Regions from separate parts of the Homo sapiens genome. Here region 1 is linked to region 2. The links come from fine-mapping of genetic effects on gene expression. Tissue or cell type: lung. Region 2 holds a variant in brackets; the other region holds the start of a gene. All regions are shown on one strand. Distances are from middle to middle.

Region 1 (4,123 bases), 69 kb after region 2:
CCCAAGCCTGAGTCAGGAAAGCCTGGAAAAGTGAGTGGAGGAGGAGGAGCTCGGGGGGCCCTGTTCTCCATTCAGCCCCCACCCAAGAGCTGTGGGCTTCCAGGTGTGTGAGGCTGGGCGCCTGGCACCTGAGCTCCTGCGGTTTGGGTCATAGTCTGAGCCAGAGTGGGAGATTCAGGGTAGGGAGGTGGTGAGGGGCACCCAGGTTTGTCTTATAGGGCACTCTGTTCCCGGCTCTGTGTAATGAGGGGAGGACCCCAAGTCCTTTGGACAGCGCATCCATCTCCTGGCCATAAAGTGTGAGCGTGGAGCTGGGCTGATTTGGGGGTGTCCGGAAGAAGGAAATGAAAGGGACATTTAATGAGGTCCTAGTACGTGCCAAGCATTTTCACACACCTACATTTGATTCAATTTCCACTACAAGTGGACACTGTTATACCTATTTTACAGACACAGAAACTGAGGCTCAGAGAGGTGCCTGGAGACGGAAAAGGGTGGGGAGCGAATCTTTCTGGCGCGCCCTCTGTGCCTCAGTCACCGTGCCAGACGCCTGCCCGCGTTCCCTATCGAAATCCCCCCGCCTCGCCAGCGAGGAAGGCGCGATCGTCCCCGGAACACAGACGGGAGACCGGAGGCTCGGGGACCGCCGGACGACCGCGGCCGGGCGGCCCCTCACACCACCCGGGCGGCTCCCCCGACGGCGCGCGGCGCTCACCTCCAGGCGGTCGATGCGGTCCCGCAGGGCGCGCACGGCGTCCTCCAGCTCCAGAATGAGCGCAGGCGAGTCCCAGGGCCCGTCGGCCATGGTGTCGCGGCGGGGCCCGGCGCCCTGGAGGCCGCGCGGCAGGCCGCTCTCGCAGCGGCCCAGCTTGCCGGTGAGCTCACGGATGGTGTCCTGGTCGGCGCGGATGCGCGCCTCCTGCTGCAGCGCCGTCTGGCGCAGCTGCTCGGCCGTGCTCTGCAGCAGCAGCAGCTCTTCGCGCTCGCCCGGCGCAGCGCCCGCCGCGTCCCCCTGCTGGGCCCCCGACGGGCAGGCAGCAGCCAGCGGCGTGCACAGGAAGCGGCTGAACAGGGGCCCGGGCGGCAGCGGGTGCGCGCTGGCCGCGGGTGCCCCGGGCAGCGCGGGGGGCCCGGCTGAACCGCCCGCGCCGTGCAGCGCGCTCAGGCTCCGCTGCGGGCCCGGGGACGCGGCGGCGCCCGAGGCGACCGAAGCATTGTCGGCGCCGCCGGGCAGCGCCCGCGCCGGGCTGGCCGCCAGGGGCACGCTGGCGATGATGCAGATGACGGCACCGAGGAACGCCAGCATGCCCGCGGCCAGCAGCACGGCCAGGAACTTCAGCGTGAGGCGGGCGGCGGGGGCGCCCGAGGCCCCCGGCAGGCGCGGCGGCGGGGTCGGGGCGCGGAGCCCGGGCGCGCTGGGCCGAGCGGGGCAGGCGCGGGAGCCGGAGCCGGAGCCGGAGCCGGAGCCGGAGCTGGAGCTGTCGCCGCGGCCGCTGCTGCCGCCGCTCTGAGCCCGGGCGGCGGGAGGAGGAGAAGACGGCAGGCGGCGGGGAGGGGGAGCGGGCGCGGCGGCCCCGCCCCACTCGCTTCCCCGGGCCGGCCCTGGCCCCGGCCCAGCCCCGCACCCGTTCAGTGCCGGGCGCCCGGCTGGGGGCGCCGCCGGGGATGCGGCGAGGAGCGAGGGCAGCGCCTGGGACCTTATCTCGCCGCGGTCACAGCGCAGGGGCCGGCGACCCGAGGGCCGCGCGGCGGGGCTCCTGGGTGACCCCCATCCCAGCCCTCCCGTGCTCGGGCCCCCTCCCCAAGCCGGTTATGTTCACATCCACCCGGGAGGGAGCTTTCTTCCGGGTGGGGCTGTGCACTGGGCGCGCCACAAGCTCGGTCGCAATTGAGCCTTGCCGTGGACAGGCTCACAATAGAAATGAGGAAACTGAGACACCTGAGGTCAGGCCTCTGTCCAAGGTCACCGGGTGGCTGCGTTGGAGCCGCCTGCGAGCTTAGGCACGTTTCACCGGACCAGACTGTGGATGGGGCTGGAGTGGGAGCGGTTAGAGGTGGAGAAGAGGCCAGTGTTGGGGGTTGGGGGGAGGCTCGGATTTTGACCTAACTTCTGTTTATACTGTGGCCACCTGCCCGTCACCCCCACCTCCAACCTTCTGAAGGAGCAGAGTTCACTCCCCGCCACCCTCATTACAGAATCTTCCTGTGATCTCAGAGGATGATGGAAATTCTCTCCTCTGAATCCTTGGGGGCTTAGAGCCTCACAGGTCCAGAGAAACCCCCCACCCCCACTGCAGTCTGCCTTCGTTGGCAAGCGGTGCCACGTGCCTGGTGGGCATGTGGACCAGGCCCAGAAGGAACAGCAGGAATGGGAGTGGGCTGTGCTGTGGGGGTGGCAGAGGAGCGTTTTACTTTCTTCTGTCAAAAATGTCTATATATATTTTGTTGAAAATTAACTTTGCAATTAAAAACTTAAAAACAATCCTACTATCCTCCACACTTTATCCCCAGCTCCAATTTTCCATGAGGTCTTTCCTGACCAATACGGATTCCCAGGGCTGGAAGGGCCTTGGGAGGGCTGTGGTTATTCCCAGCTCTGTCTCCCTTCCAAGCCTGCATTTTTGACTTGAAGGGAAAGCGCAAACCAGGATCTCTGGACCACCACGGCTACCACTGTGGTTTCGAGTGTACTTCACATAGCGCTGGTGGTGGGGAGAGACCGGAATGTTTCCCAGGAAGCCACAACCCTGGGGGACGCTCTCCAGCCACGGGGATTTTGTCCAGTGTTCCCAGGCACACGTGCTCCACCTCCCTCTCTCCACACATGTTAGGATGATGTCCACCCTGTTCACCCATCTCTAGGAGCCAGGGATTTTCATCCATACCTGAGTTGTGAAAGAGGAGAGAAGCAAACACAAGCGCTGTATGCCAGGAACCTGAGTGCTGTGTGTGCGTGGATGTGTGCTGGTGCTCACTGAAGTCGTAACCTCAAAACCCAGGGCAGGCAGCTGGGCTTGGAGGAAGCATCTCATGGACAGAGAGATGGGCTGGGCTCTTGGAAGGCAAAGGCCAGCGGTAGGCCCTGCTAAAGTCCTGGGGATGCATGAGACATCGGGACTCCTGGTACATCTACACGTGTGCCGTGAAGACAGAAACACGGAGATAGCATCCCCAGGAGAAACTGTCATAGGAAGTCCAGGGAAGGACAGGAGATGCCAAGAGAGAGGGCTGCTGCCAAGAGCAGCAGAGCCACTGTGACTTGGGCACCAAATGGTGCCACCTTTACCTGAGCTGCCCCCTGAGACTTTGGGGACAGTTTGGATAAATGGGTCCAGAGGCTGGAGTCAAATTGTGTTTAAACTGGTCTGTTGATCTCCTAGAATGACTTTATTTTTTATTTTATTTTATTTTTGAGACAGAGTCTTGCTCTGTCACCCAGGCTGCAGTGCGGTGGCGTGATCTCGGCTCACTGGAACCTCTGCCTTGCGGGTTCAAGCAATTCTCCTGCCTCAGTCTCCCAAGTAGCTGGGACTACAGGTGCACGCCACCACGCCCAGCTAATTTTTGTATTTTTAGTAGAGATGGAGTTTCAATATGTTGGCCAGGCTGGTCTTGAACTCCTGACCTCAGGTGATCCACCTGCCTCGGCCTCCCAAAGTGCTGGGATTACAGGCGTGAGCCATGGCGCCCAGCCTCTCCCTTCTTCCTTGGCCCATCTCTATCCCCAGCATTCAGCATGAAGCCTGCCCAGGGAAGCTTCTCGGTGAATGTTTGCTGAACTAGTTCCTAATGCCACTGCTGGAGGCAGAGGAAGGAGGAGAGGACAGAGAAGTCCCAAAACTCGTCTCTCCTGGGTCCTGGGAGAGACCCCCCTTAATCCTAACACAGGATTCCTCAAGGGATGGGCAGAGAAGTATTCTCAGGGGAACTTCCCTAAAACTGGAATAGTTCCTATATTTTCCCTCTGAATTGTCATGACTCCTAGTTTTTTTTTTTTTAAATTTCTTCACTTTCATTCCATTCTTAGGCCAAGGGAATTCTGCCATATATAACAAATATAGGAATTCATTTTAGAAAATATGTTTTGAGACCTACATTGTGCCAGGCATAGTGCCAAGCATTG
Region 2 (4,252 bases):
TCGATTCATATCAGCCCGACCCAGTCATTGCTGATGCACCTCCTAGAGAAATCTATTCCATCCATCCACCCATCCACCCATCCATTCATCTATCTGTCCATCCGCCCATCTACCCACCCACGCATCCATCCACTCATCCATTCCTATTTTCATTCACTCACTTGCTAGTCACAATGCATTTTCAATTTATATCAGGCCCTGGGCTAGGCATTGGGGATGCACAGAGAGATAAGACAGCCCCAGCCATCGAGTAAATAAAGCATAGCAGGTATAGACACCATGACAGAAGATGTGGCACCGTGGGGACGCAAAGTGCCTATGTGTCATGGGTTGCAGCGGGGAAGGGGTTCTGGAGGAGCTGGTATCACTCTGAGCTGCTGATGTGCAGTGGAGACCTGAGGCCAGCTCCCATCCTGGCATGTCACATGTTCTCTATGACGCCATCTCCCTACTGTTAGGGGAGGGAGGAGTCGCATGGAAACTTCCAGGCTGCTTCATTGGCCATTTTGAGACTGGAAGGACAAACGCAGTGTGGACCCTGCTGGGTCAACAGCCAAGTCCTCCCACATAATTGCCATTGGGATTGTCTTTCTGGGTTCTGGTCCCAGCCACCTGGGGCCCTTGGTCACTGGACCAGGTGCATGTGTGTGTGTGGCCGCCCTGCCTCTCCTGCTTTGGCTCTGCAGGGGCCCAGTGCCTACAGGGGCTTAGAGATGATAACCTACCTACCTGGCACACCCCAGCCTTCCAGACTCCCAAGCCTCGCACCCAGAGTGGAGGCCCAAGGAAGGGATGGCCCCCCACAGCACCTGACCCAAATCTTTGATCAGCCCTTCCAACTTTAAAGCACACTCACATTCAGGGCCACTGTCTCCTGGGAGCCCTACAGTAACTTTGGGAAGCAGGCATAGCCGGAGCTGCGAGTCCTGTCTTGCAGGTGATGAAACTGAGATCTGAGAAGCGAAGTGGCTTGTTCAAGCTGGCAGGCAACCCTGGAGAGGGTTCAGAACTGTCACAGGCCTGCGGGGAACCCTGGCTCTGCCACTTAGGTTGTGGGTCTTCTCATCTGCATGAGGGGGACACTGAGGGCATCTCCTCACAGAATGGACGTACACATTAGGGAAGATGGGGTTGGTGAAATGCTTGGTGCTGTGCCTAGCACGTCTGAGGAATCTAATAGTTTGGGAATATTATTCAAAATGATTCGAGTCTTCTGCCTTCTAGGCGTGCTCTCCTTCCACCCCCACGGCCTTTCTAAGGATTGGAGATAGCAGCTGGCAGTGGGAGGTGGTTGTTTTAAATATGAGATGAGGAGAACGAAAGGAAATTAGGACAGGGTGGTGGCTTTTGTGGCTGCACTCTGACAACCCCCTCCCAAACCTGGACACAATCAGATGCTGCCTGCTTCTGCGCTTAAGGAGCTGAGCCTCTGCTGCACAGTTCTCACTCCTGCTGTGGGGCGTGGGTGGGGGACACTGGTTTGAGGGGGGCCCCCATAGCCCAAGGGCACACCCCCTTGCCTACCTGTAGGGTCTGTCCTCTGGAGAAGCAGGAAGTAGGTTAAACAAGATGCTGGAGTTTCTCTGCACCTCTTCCAAGGCAACATGAAATATTCACCAGATTTCTCCAAAGGCCCCGCAGAGAGCTTCAAAGCTGGCTGTCCCCGCGGCAGCACGCTCCCTTCCACAGGCGACACAAGGCCTCGTGACCAAGCCCTCACCCTCCACCTTCTCACACTGACTGCCTCGGCACCTCTTGCTCCCCACTCTTGGGAGGCCTGTGGTTCTGGAGTCCCAGCAAGGGGACCTATGGTTCACTCTCTCTGATCTGGCGGGGCACTCACTGCTCTCCCAGGCAGAGGGACAGGCCCTGGGGTTGGGGCCTGTGACTCCCTTTAGACATGTCCAGACAAGGTTTCCGATTTTTGCCCCACACTGACTCTGGCTGGGCCCAGCAGAGCGGACTGGGGTGTTAGTGGGGGGAGGCCCTCCTCCCCATACTGCAGATGGCAGCGAAGAGGCGGGGTTGGTGGCAGGCCTGTGGTCACTGCCTCCACTATAAATGCTGCAACTGCCGTGGAGGGTGCAGGGGAGGCCTGGCGATGGTGAGGGAAGCAGCTAGGAGATGGACGGCCCAAGGCGTGGCCAGGCCGCGGGGAGCCCAGCTGTCTGTGGGGGACGGGGCAGGAGGGAAGTGGACGGAAGGTCTGAGAATGCAGCGTGTGTGGAAGAGCAGGGACTATCCAGGCAGGCAGCCCAGGTTCAAGTCCCGGCTACAGCTGCTCCCTAGCTGGACCCTGGGTCAGACACTCCATCCTCCAAACCTGAGTTTCTCCATTTGTAAATAGCAACAGCAACCCCTAATTTGGAGGTCTGCTGAGAGTTACACATCAGGGTAAGCCCAGTGCCTGCCAAGTGGGGGAAGCCTCCTTCCTCCTGAGCCCCAGCAAACCCTTTCACCTTCAGCCCGTCCTCTCTCCCCACCCCCATATCCTCTCCCATCCACGGCCACTGCCCGGCTTCC[C/G]TGAACCCATTGTGAGCTTCCTGGAGCCCCCACTCTGCACGGGCGGCTGGTCCCTCAAACAATGGTGACTTCCCCCTCCCCACCCCCATCTCACCCCTTCCTGGGAAAATGCCAAGGCCCAGTTCAATGCCACCTCCTCTGTGAAGTCCTCCCCAGCCCCCTAGTGAGAGTCACTCTCTTCTCTGAACTCCAGATTCCCTGAACCCCGTCTTCTCTCTTCTGGCAAATGAACCTGTCTTGCTTTTCTGTTCCTGGGTCTGGCCCTCAGTAGCCTGTATGCTGGGTGGCAAGGACGGTGCCTTCTCCGTGGTCACGGACCTCTCCTTTCAGCCCATCATCAAATGCTTATTGAATGTTACGGGCAGCAAGGGCCCTGGAAGGCCAGGTGTCCACGTCTGGCATGGGTCTTGGGGAGTGGAAGTAAAGCCACCGGGGCCAAGGAAACCCCTGGGAAACACACCTGCCATGGTTCCGTCACCTGACCTGGCCCAACGGTGACCACACCATTGTCTGGGAGCAGGAAGGGGAGACTGTGAATGACCCATTTCTGGGAAGGCAAGTGAGGAGGGTTCTGCTGCAGTGACAGGAGTGACTAGGGTAGAAGGTTTGCTCGCCACCTGTGGTGCCACCGTACGGTGTGACTGTGAGGGCCAGACACTGCACAAGCCTCATCTCACTGAATCTCCACCCACCCCGAGGAGCTGGTGTCAGCACCCCGTCCACAGGTGGCAAGAGGAGGGGCACAGCGATAATGCGGTGCACACCTCGGGGGTGTCACCTGTTCCAGTTGCGGTCCCAGGCCTCCCGTCAACCTCGTGAGGTGGGTGCGGTGTATCCCCATTCTACAGACAGAGCCACTGAAGACAGAGAAGTTAGGAGGAGCAGGGCCAGACCCGAACCAGCTCTGCGGGCCTCAGCACCCACGCTCCTGCCACCCCCACCACCCTGGTTGCCGGCTGAGCCAGCCTCGCTTTTTGGCGCCCACGTGCAGCAGATGAAAGGAGAGAACAGATGCAGAGCGGGCGGTAATCAGCGCAGCTATTCTAGGCCTCGGCGCCTGCTCCCCACCTCCAGCGCCGGCCCCCGCCTCTCCGTTCACTCCCTTCTGCCAATCCCTCCGCAACACCCGAGTGGCACAGGGTTCTGGCCAGGGCAGGTCTGAGGCCAAGAAGCTGCCCCATCCGCCAAGTCCCAGAGGGCCAGGACCAGCTGGAAAGCCACCCAACCAGATGGTCAGCCTTGAGGCAACGACTGCGCCTTCTCGTTCTTGTCTGTCCCACTGCTCTTGGACCGGGTGCGCACACGGCAGCAACCTTCCCCTTGGCTGCATGGGTCTGGTCTGAGCAAACCTTACCTGCTCGCCATGAGGCTGCCCAGCCAATCTGTTGATGGATCTTGTTAGTGCTGGACGCTCAGTCTCACAAGGGTGGGACTGGGACTGGGATAAGGACAGGGCTTCAGCTCCCAGACCCATGTATCCTAGGGACCATCTCAGGAGGGCCCCTGTGTGCATGGGAAGGCGGGCTCTCCCCGCTCTCCCCACGCCCGGGGTGTTCACTTCTGAGGCTCGGATTCAGGGGACAACCCCTGAGGGGGCTTCACAGGCCTGCACGTGGCTCCTGTCCTCAAGTCACTTCTCATCTCCTGCGTTTACCCCAAGTGCCTTGGGGTAATGTCTAGTTTTCTGTCCTGAGAGCAGCCCTCTCCCTTGGTAAGATCCCGTTTTCTG

Evidence for each region. PIP is the estimated chance that this variant, and not a neighbour inherited with it, causes the effect.
Region 1: it holds the start of NPTXR, and the variant in region 2 is fine-mapped to the expression of NPTXR in lung (TOPMed, PIP above 0.99).

What each region holds. Positions count from the first base shown.
Region 1 is chr22:38,842,520-38,846,642 of GRCh38, forward strand. It overlaps NPTXR (neuronal pentraxin receptor), which reads right to left and starts at 1,509. Exons shown (of 5, transcript NM_014293.4): 1 at 716-1,509. The coding sequence starts at 1,339. RefSeq lists a silencer at 1,028-1,097.
Region 2 is chr22:38,773,731-38,777,982 of GRCh38, forward strand. No RefSeq gene overlaps it. Among named protein-coding and RNA genes, the nearest start is that of DNAL4, 18 kb to the right of the region's middle. The variant C/G (reference allele first, on the strand shown) is at 2,524.